Linked DNA regions of Homo sapiens: region 2 is linked to region 1. Evidence: fine-mapped expression QTL. A gene starts in region 1. The other region holds a variant in brackets. All regions are shown on one strand. Distances are between the middles of the regions.

Region 1 (5,374 bases):
CACCCCCTCCACCCTCACCTTCTGATGCCTCCACCCTCACCTCCACAACCTTTACCCAAGTTGCGCAATGACATTCTCTCCCTCCCCCTCAGCCACACTTAATCCTCTTTCTCAATCTCCCCACATTCCTCTCTATTCTCTGCTCCTCCCAGTCTCCCTCAGCTCCACACACGGTTGAAGCCCCTCCAGATTCTAACACTTCCAGAATCCTCTCCCCAGAAAGCTCTCCTCAATCAGCCAGTGTCTGCAGAGTCCTTGGCAAAGGGGTTGCTGGGAGTTATGACTAAAGATGGGGACATGAGGGTGGAAAGATACCCCTTTCCCATGACAATCCTAATTAGCACACAGGATGTGGGGGCTTTCCAAGGAAGCAGAGAGACTCTGCTCAAACAGCTGTTCACTGGGGAGGGCCTTTCCGAGTCATCTTCTCTACGTCCTCCCCAGCACACCGGCCTCTCCAGGCTCCTCGGTTGCACTCTTGGGAAAGCCGAGCCAGAATTCCAGAAACAATGGCCCCCTCCCCACCTGTCACTGACGGAGGCAGAAACTCTTCCCGGGTCATCGATTAAGCAAGGACCGAGCAAAGAGAGGCAGTTTTGCTCTCCCTTGGGCAGCACCCCCACTCCCCACCCCCCAAGGCCCCATCCTGGAGGCTCCCTTCCTGGCTCTGACCTGGAAAGGCAGGTCAGCTGGGAAGCGGGTTTGTGCTGGCTACAGTGACAACTTGATTCTCATGAAAAGATAGGAGTTTGGCGCTCCAGGAGACCATGGGTTCCTTACAGGCTATGGTTTCAAGAGGAAGCCTGGGGACAGTTTCTCCTTAGGAATCTGCGTCCTCCTCCTCCGCAGACAAAGGGAGCGGCTTCCCTGCCATGCATTCCGAAGCCCCGAGCCTCCCCCTCCTCTCTCCATCTGCTCCGGCCTGTTGCTTCCGCGCATGTAGTGTGTAGCAGAGGCATTCGCCAATGCCGCGGCGTCCAGGGTACCCCAGCCCTAGTCTCTCCTCCCAGGGAGCCCGGCGCTTCCCTTACCCGACTGTAGCGAGAACCTCCGGGGAATCCCTTCTTCCTCCCCCAGTTCCCACACCCAGGACCCAGCTGCGGGGAGGCATCCCACACAGGAGACGCAGAGGCAGTGAGATCGGGGGTGAGGGGACGTGTGGCAAGCCCCAGCGTGCCTGAAGCAAAACAGGGTCAGGTCAGCCAAGGTGCCGGCCGCCACGGGATGAGGGCAGGAAGCCTTTGCGAAGGGCTGGGATTGCCTGTAGTCTGGGGCGGCCCTAGAATTTCTACATAGAAAGACTTAGGGCCACCAACTGCTGAAAAGCGGGGGCATGAAAGGGGTGGGGAGTGGATTGTTACCGACTAGGTTGAAGCTGGGTTTGCAAAACCACAACACTGATACTATTTGCATGGATGTTTAAGGGGGAGGGAGGATCCTGCGAGGATTCAGCGGAGTGAATCGCCTCCCACCACCACCTCTTGGTGACACTGCTGCACAGAAGTGCCGACTAGGTGGCCAAGGTGGGTTCACAGGGAGGGAGGTACCTTGGCAGGTTGGGAAGGTGGGAGCAGGCGGGGCGGGGTCAGGGGCGGCTGGCTCACCCGTGTCTTGGCGGAACTGGTTCATGGACTGCAGGTCGATGATGTAGGGCGCGAGACGGCTGTCCACCTGGCCCAGCACCACGCTGCCCCCCGCGCGGGGGCCGGCGCGGACCACCGCCTCGATGTGGTGGCTCACCGCTGGGCTGTAGGGACGCCAGCGGCCGTGCTCGTTCAGCCATTCCCAGACCACCACGGCCGAGGCCAGGAGCATGGCGAGCCCGGGGCTGCGGCGCTGCGCGGCCCGCCTCCCGGGCCCCGAGCGCCCGACCTCCTCCGCTTCCTCCTGCGCCGCCGCCTCCGGGCCTCGACCGCGCCCCCTGCCCCGCGCCCCGCCGCCCCGGGCAGCCTCAGCTCCGGCCCATGGGCTCCTCCCCAGCCGTGCATCCACCGGGGCCGGGACACCGGGGCCGCCTGGCTGGGACCGCGCGCCGCCGCCGCCGCCGGGGTCCGCTGCTGCTGCCGCTGCTCTGTGGGGTCGAGTCGCTTCATGCAAATGCCCGGCTCTCTGCAAACAGGCCCCCGCCTTGCAAAAGCCACTCGGCGGGCGCGCGGCCCGAGCCCCGGCGGCCGCGAGCTGGGGCTGACGGCGAGGCAAGGACCCAGCCCTCGCACCAGTTGCGCCTCGGCCTCTGCAGACGCCGGGGTGGGATCTCGCCGCACGGCCGCGCTCGGAATGGCACGCTCTGGTCCCCTCCCCTCTCTCCCTCCCTCCCCACCCCTTCGCCGCACGAATTGCAGTCCCCGCCGCTGGGAGAGCTCCCCCTGCCTGTGGCTCTGCTCAGTTCCTTCCAGAATGAACCACCCCTCCCAAGCAGGGCGCTAAGGCAAACCCGCGCCCGCGTGTGTTTCCCTGGTTCCTTGATGCAGAGAAGCGACCCGCCATGACACGGCCCCGGGACCACCACTGTCGCCCAGCCGCAACTTTGCAGCCTCCTTCCCCCAAATGTAATTTTCTCTCTCTCTCTCTTTTTTTTTCCTTAATGCAGCATGATCAGTGTCCGCAGCGCGAACTGGAGACACGCATTGTCTCGGGGCTTGCGCACGCACTGGCACACTCACAGTCGCACACACACGCGCGCGCACCCCAACTCCTTCCTTGCCCCGGCTCCTATTACCTCATCCTCTCCCGCATCCTTAGCTGTCCGTCAAGGAAGCAGAAGACACGCCCCCTGCTGCTCGGGCGAGTGCCCTGGAGCTTACCCGCCCCCTGCTGGCCTAAAGTGTCGTGTGCCGGCCAGTGGCCACTCCAACCTCTGCTAATGAGACCCAGTCCAAAGGGATGCAGCAATTTCGCTAATGATGGATTTATATTACCTACGTAGAGAGCAAATGTGGTTTTTCTGGCCAGATTCAACGTACTAGAGTCAGGAAGACGCATGTTAGATTAATTTTATCTGCATCGTTTCTGTAACTAAAATTATGAAACACTAGGAAAAACACGAGTTAGACTTATTTTGATCATCAATAGTTAATATGGAAAATAACCTTAAATAGGTAGGTTCTGACTAAAAGGGAAGACTGAAGTCAGGATTATGCATTATCCTTGTCAAAGAACACAAATTTTGTTTTGTTGAGATTGCAAACCACATAAAACAACGAATCGAGTCTTATCAAGATCCAAGTTATAGGATGCGGGAAAGTAAAAATAGATTATGTGTTAGAGAATGGGATTGTGAATCTTTTTGAAATAATCAATTTTTTCATAAATATCATATGACCCTTTTATGTTTTAGAAGAGTTGCTTCCCCCTCCCTCTCCTTGCAGCTGTCATTTCTCCCATTGTTAGAATTTTGCATCCTTCTACCTTTATCTTTCTCCCAACAGAGTTCTAAATACAAAGCAAAAGAAAAAGTGTGAGATCTGTTCTTCTTCAGGCCCCTAAAGGCACCAGGCTCAAGGAACCTCTGAGCTTTGTTCTTTCTGGTCTTCTTGCACAGCTTGGCCTCCAAAATGCCTAGTCGGCCTCTCCCTTATTTGGGGACTGTTCCTAATCCAACCTAAACAATACCACTCATTAAAATGTCGAGTTTCAGAATTAGAAGAACAAAAAGAAAACAAGGATACCTCGACTAATTATATCATAGGCCATTATTATTACCATTTTACAAATGACAGGACTTAAGGAATTTAAACTATTTGCCCTAGATTACATAGCTAGTTAGAGGGGAAACCAGTATTCAAAATTTAGTTGGGCTGTCTCAAAAGAAAATGCCTGTTCCATAGCATGTCCTATACAACACAGAGGTGGCACAATAACAGGCAATGTAGAAGTGTCTCAGTGTGAAAGAAGGGAAGGGAGAAAATGGGGGTAGAATTTTCTGGAAAAGAAACAGAAGGCAAACTGAAGAAAAAGTAATTTAAAAATTTATTGGGCTACTTTTATTTCTAGTCATAAAAATGGAAAGTATCAAAACTCAGGAAACTTTCTTATAGTCTTGGTAAGTATGAATCAAAAAGTGAAGAGTAATGATTCAAGGGGATATTGGAAGTACCAGCGAAAATATAGCACCTGACCAGCTAAGCCAGAAATTCCAAGGTGAAAAAAATCTAAACTAGATAAGCAGGCTACCAGCAAATGTTAGATGAGCTGTTTGAAAGGCGAATGGAAGGCAGAAGGAAACTGACGCCTACCTGCCTATGTCCAGCCTAGTTTTGTATCTGGTCTTCTTGTATCTTCCATGTTAAACACAACAGAGTATTACAGCAGAATAAAAATATCTTATGACATGTGAGAAGGTTTGTATGTAGTCTGATTCATTTGCAAGAGGAAGTGAATACACACACACACATACACACATATACACACAAATGAGAGGGGTCTTTAAAATTTTATGGAAAATGCATATTATGAAAAAACTAGGCTGGTAGTTCAAATTGTTTTTTTGCACCCAAATAAACTCATACTAACTTGTTATAACATGTCTGAACAGGATCTAGTTTGAGACACTAAGAAGGGTAAGACAATGCCCTTACTGAAGAGGATCAAGGATTAGCAGTCAAAACAATAGCCTACACCATAGATATGTCAACTGGTTCAGCTTACACAATTCTGACAAAGAAATTAAACTTTCCATTCCTTGATAGGTGCCAAAACCATTGCACCCAGGTTGGCCACAGACAAGAGCAGGCCTTTCAATAGAGATTTTAAATGGGTGGGATCAGGATCATGAAACATTTCTTTGAAGAATTGTAACAGGAGATGAAACATTACCAGTATAATCCTGATGACAAGGAACAACCAAAGCAATGGCTATCAAGAGGTAGAAGTGGTCCAGTCAAAGCAAAAGTGCACTGGTCAAAAGCAGAGACCATGGCAACAATTTTTTGGAGATGCTCAAGGCATTTTACTTACTGACTTTCTGGAGGGCCAGAGAACAATAACATCTGCCTAATATGAGAGTATTTTGCAAAAATTAGCAACAGCTTTAGGATAAAATACCTGGGAAAGCTTCACCAGAGTCGTTCTCCACCATGGCAATGTTCATGCTCATTCCTCTCATCAAACAAACGCACTTTTGTGAGCAATTTGATGGAAAATCTTTTAATCTGCTGTACAGTCCTGATTTGGCTCCTCTGACTTCTTTTTGTTTCCTAATCTTAAAAAATTTTTTAAAGAGCATCTGTTTTTCTATAGTAAAGTAAAACTGCATTGATATGGTTAGGGTCCCAGGACACTCAGTTCTTTAGTGATGGACTAAATGATTCATATCATCACCTACAAAATATCTTGAACTTGATGGTGCTTATGTTGAGAAATAAAGTGTACATTT
Region 2 (5,374 bases), 33 kb before region 1:
AGGGGGCACAGACACAATCAAAAGCCCAGGGGAAAAGGCTTGAAGGTATGAAGTCGACCTCTCCAAGTGGTATTGCCACAGGCACAGCGGCTCCCTTTCCATCTTGAGTCTTCTTCCTTCTGCTCCTGGCCACCCCCTTCCCCACCTATACCTTCTTCTCCCTGATGTGGGGAAACTGATCTCTCCCCAGTGCCTAATTCCATTTTGAAAGTCTGTCTTCTTTTCTTCCCCACCTCCTACTGCCTCATTGTGTCTTTCTTCCCATGGACCCTCAGCCTATTTCTGCATCCTTGCGGCCAAGAAGCTCAGCAGATACTTGACCAGTGTGCGAAGGTAGAGACGGCATGAGGCTCTCCAAGTAATCTCTGTACATGGTAACCTGACAAAGGGCATGGGTGTGATATTAAACACCGCAGGGATGTCTCTTCCATTTAGTTCAGGTGTTTCCTTCCTAACTATGGCAGGAAATTGCCCTGTGGTGCAGTAACCTTGGGACCAGTCTCCTGGTCTGCTGGTGAGATACAATGGCTGCCTGCCGACAGGAGACACAGGGACAAGGATGGCAGAGCAATTCCTCCCATCAGAGCTCCCTCTGGTGGAGCTGATCAACATCCCTGTAACCATTTGGAAAGAGAGCAAAGGCTCAGCACCAGCACATCCACAGAACTGGGTGACAGGCAGGTGAATCGACTGACAGGCAGGTGAATCGACTATCCACCCCAATGTCAAAATGGCTGGAGGCCTAACAGCAAGCAGCTATGGGGCTGGCTTTATGAAAGATTGGCCTCCAGTTCCCATCTAAGTACCATTTTTGAAGGTTCTCTTGTTTCCATTTTTCTAGCATCAAAAACCTTCCAAATATTATGAAATATATATGCATATATATATATATATATATACGTCAAACCCCCAAAACATGAGGTATATAAATTCAAATTAGTATCCAGAGGAACTTCCCCCAAACACATAGTTCAAAGAACCCACTTTCAAAGGGGGAATTGGGTTTCCCTTCTTGATCCCCCCTGTTCTCCTCCCTGGCCCCCAATTCGTTCCTTACTGGGAGCCAAAGGCAATAAGAATGTTGGGGAGGAGATAGGGTCTTGGGACACAACAAGATGCAGATTGGACCAGACCATATTGTGATCCCAACTCCATTAGGAATGAGCTAAAGAGATTCTCTCCCTGCTGTAAGTCAATCTATAATAGATGAGGGAGATGAGGGACCCAGCAGCTCTGGGCTCTGATTAGCAAATTTGCATGGAAACAGATTGAAGCCTTCATAGAAACAAGACTGGATGGAGATGAGCTCTGATCCAATCTTGAAAAGAAATATAAAAGGATGAGTTCAGCCCTCACCTCATTGCATCTCCCCAGGCACAGTTCTGTCTTCATTGGGGTTTCAGTTCACTACGGGATAGGTTGGCAACAGGTGAGGAACGTCAAAGGACCACAGCCTGGCTGTTGGAGCCCCATCAGAACTGGGGTTTGGCATCTTGCAAAACAGAGTGCAGGGACATGACGGGCCTTCCCTTCAAGCTGGCCCAGCAATGCACACACGCCCACACACACACGCGCATGCACAGACACAGAGGGCACAGAGCCCAGCATGGGCTCCACTCACAGTGACTCGATGAAACTCATGGAATCTTTGAGCTGGTCTAGAATGAGTTGGGAAGAAGGCTGTGGGCTCCTCTCCCTGAGGACAGTTCAGATGCTCAGTGGGATGCAGGCTCTGGTTTGATCAGAGAGGGTCTAGAAACAGCATCATGGGATGCCACTCCAAAGAGGAACCCCAGAGTCCATCCATCCACATGAGAGAACCAGATGCCTCTTTGGACAGGTGAGAGCTGTGAGGAGGAGAGGAGGGCCCAGAGAAGCCAAGGACTGTGATGACAGCAGAATGTGCTCCCAGAGGCTTTTCCTTCTCCGACCCTCTTGGGAAGAAGTGCTTCCTTGCTCTACACCAAGGCATCAGTTTCTGATGTCACAGCAGTTTAGTGATTCACCCCTTTGCCCACCCCCCAACCTTGCACAGTGAGAGCTCCCTGCCTCCAGCAGAGGGAGAATAGCAGAAACTCCAGTCTCAAAGCAGAGTGGAAGTAGCAAGAAGCCGGCTGAGGCAAGAAACCCCGGCTTCCCAAAGCCAGGATATGGAGTGCCTAAGCACTGCCCATACCCTAGGTGTGCTGACCATGCCCCTACTTGGGAGGTGGGGTAGGGAGGGGATTCCTGCCTACCCAGCACCAAAAACTCCATGGGAACAGACCCAGGATGGCCCTCATCCCATCTCCCTTTGTGTTGGATGAGATTTATGAATGATGTCGCTATATTCAGTCTGGCTCCCACTGTGGTTGGGAGGGATGAGGGATGGACACAGGGC[A/G]GGAGGGGAGGATAGAAAGTTGGGAGGGCAGGACACCAACTTCTTCTACATTGACTCACTCTCCTCACTTCCTGTCCTGCAGTCTCCATGGCCCCTCCCACCTCAAAGCTTTTCTGGCCTCAGTCCTTCTCCTGGGCAGTGCTGTCCTCAGAGATGCCCTGGGCAGCCAGTTCAGCCAGCACATTATCCAGGTAATTGGCATCTGGGTAGCCATGGCCAGTGAGATTAGAGCCAAACTCTGTCTTGTGGTGGACCTCATTCCAGATGACGGTGTCTGACTCGCCTGTGGTGCTGGAGGTGCCAATGGCAAAAATGAGGCGGCGATCCCAGGCCACGAGCAGCAGCTTCAGAACCTAGAGGGATAAAAGTGGGACATGAAAGGCAGACATTAATTGGCAGTCAAAGACTATCCCTTGGACGGTAGAGAATCCTCCCAAGGGCCCCATCCCTTCCTGCATCATGATACCCTAAGCAGCCCAGGGGAAAGAAAGAGATTTGGACTTGGAGTTTGGGAGCTACAGGCTGAGTCCTGGCTCTGTCACTGAATAACTGTGTGACCTTGGAGAAGTTATAGCACCTCTCTGAACATTAATTTTTTTATGAAATGGCAATGGTACAATCTGCCTCTAAACGTTGTGAACATCTTACTGGACACTCCATGAAAAGTATTTTCACACCAGTGCCTACAACGCACTAATTGATAAATGTTATCTGCCAACATAACGGCTGCATTTTGAAAGACAGGATCTAGGAGTTGAAGGCGCTTATGATCTGAGAACTTCTGAAGTTCTGCCCTTCATTACTGCCACCACTACCTCAATGTAGTATTAATTTATCCAAAGCTGAAGCTGTGCACTATTTTTCTAGTGACATCTTGGAGCACTCTGACTTTCTCGAGGTGAGAAAACTGAGGCTCAAAGAAAGTTTTGGGGCTTGCAGAATGTTCTAAATCAGTTAAATTAAAAAAAAAATGTTTGTTGAGCAAGACTAGTGGCTAATGCCCTGTTCCAGGCCTTGGTCAGAGTAGTGTCCAGCATGAAGAAAAAGCATCCAGTGAAAATGTCTTGGGTTGAAAACTGAACTACTGTAAACATGGTATGGGCTGGAGGAGAGGAAACCATAATAGTATTAGTAATGAAAGCAGACATTAGAAATATGAGCTGCTATTTCCTGAGTGTTTACTTTCTCAGTGTTGGGCATTGGGACATATAATCGTTACAGTAATCAGATGATATAGGTATGCCCATGTGCCACACATAGTGACATTTTGGTCAATGACTGAACACATATGCAATGGTGATCTCACAAGATTACAATAGAGCTGAGAAATTCCTATTGCCCTGTACTTACTATACTGTACTTTTAATCATTATTGTAGAGTGCACTCCTACTTATTTACGAAAAGAAAAGTTAACTGTAAAACAGCCTCAGGCAGTTTCTTCAGAAGGTATTCCAGAAGAAGGCATTGTTATCATAAGAGATGACAGTTCCACTCCTGTTATTGTCCCCAGGGCCTTCCAGCAGGATAAGATATGGATGTGGAAGACAGTGATGCTGATGATTCTGCCCTTAGTAGGTCAAGGCTAAGGTATATGTTCGTGTGTTCATTTTAAACAAAAAGTTTCAGAAGTAAAAAAAAAAAAAGTTTTTAAAAATAAACAAGCTTATAGAATAAGGATTAAAGAAAATATTTTTCTACAGCTGTACAATGTGTTTGTGTTTTAAGCTGTGTTGTTACAAACAGGTGAAAAGTGAAAAAAGTTAAAAGGTTTTTAAATGGAGAAGTCACAATAAGCTAAGGTTAGTTTATGATTGAAGAAAGAAAAGTAGTTTTAATAAATTTAGTGTAGTTTAAGTGTACAGTGTTTATAAAGTCTTTAGTAGTGCACAGCAATGTCCTAGGCCTTCACATTCACTCACAGATTCACCCAAAACTACTTCCAGTCCTGCAAGTACCATTCGTGGTAAGTGCCTTATACAGATATACCACTTTTATCTTTTATACTGTATTTTTACTGTACCTCTTCAATGTTTAGATTCACAAATACTTACCATTATACAACTACTTATAGTATTCAATAAAATAACATGGTGTACAGGTTTGTAGCCTAGAAGCAATAGGCTATACCATATTGCCTAGCTGTGTAATAGGCTATTCCATCTAGTTTTGTGTAAGTACACTCTGCGATGTTTGTATGATGATGAAGCTGTCTAATAATAATGATATCCCTGTCATTAAATGACAGAAAACTGGACTCTCATCATCCCTCTCAAGGAAACAGAGGCTCAAAAGGTAAAAGACTTGCCTTGGTCTTATAGCTAGTAAGTGGCTAGGGGCGGTGGGGTTAAGGGATTGATTTCAGGACTGCCTGACTCCATAGCCCATGGTCTGAATCACCACTCTGTTGACTCTCAGATGGGAATCAGTCTAGAATTCATGGAGGTTGCTTCTGAGCTGAGTAGTAAAGGAAGGGAAGGATTTGGGGGCATATCAATAGAGAAGGATGTATAGACATAGTAAACAAATATAAACCCAAGGCATGGATAAATTACAATTGCTGTCACTATGCTGTGCATTTTACAAATGATATTTTCATTTAATTTTTCCAACATCCTGTCCATACAGATGCAAATCATCACCACTATTTTACAGATTAGGAAACTGAGACTTCAAGACATGAAGCCAACCAGTTCCCACAGCTAGTAAATGGCAGAAATGGGACTTGAACCCAGGCTGGTCTGGCTTCAAAGCCCATCCTCTAATTATACTTCAATCTACAAGGAAGCCCAAGGTTAGGGTCCTGGAACAGCAAATGTGAAGGATAAGGATGAGAAATTGGTGTGAGGAGAAGGTTTAACTCACACTGTAGTAGGTCTTATATGTCAAGCTGAGAAGAGTGCACTTTGTTGTTTCTTCATTTTATTTCTTTTACACACAAAAAGCTTGATTCTAGAAACTGTTTGAAACTAACCTGGTAGCAGGTAAAAGATGAA

What was found. PIP is the estimated chance that this variant, and not a neighbour inherited with it, causes the effect.
Region 2: its variant is the best candidate, but not a certain one, in a credible set for the expression of DTX4 in subcutaneous fat (GTEx, PIP 0.78).

What each region holds. Positions count from the first base shown.
Region 1 is chr11:59,169,037-59,174,410 of GRCh38, reverse strand. It overlaps DTX4 (deltex E3 ubiquitin ligase 4), which reads right to left and starts at 2,279. Exons shown (of 9, transcript NM_015177.2): 1 at 1,605-2,279. The coding sequence starts at 1,815. LOC124902601 (basic proline-rich protein-like) reads left to right here and starts at 966. Exons shown (of 2, transcript XM_047427951.1): 1 at 966-1,146; 2 at 1,681-4,336. The coding sequence starts at 966. The coding sequence ends at 2,489. LOC124902675 (a long non-coding RNA gene) reads left to right here. Exons shown (of 4, transcript XR_007062682.1): 4 at 1-712. RefSeq lists enhancers at 1,213-1,322, 765-1,593, 2,221-2,515, 2,602-3,142 and silencers at 1,663-1,712, 1,773-2,342.
Region 2 is chr11:59,202,035-59,207,408 of GRCh38, reverse strand. It overlaps DTX4 (deltex E3 ubiquitin ligase 4), which reads right to left. Exons shown (of 9, transcript NM_015177.2): 9 at 1-2,733. The coding sequence ends at 2,500. Among named protein-coding and RNA genes, the nearest start is that of MPEG1, 8.2 kb to the left of the region's middle. The variant A/G (reference allele first, on the strand shown) is at 2,381.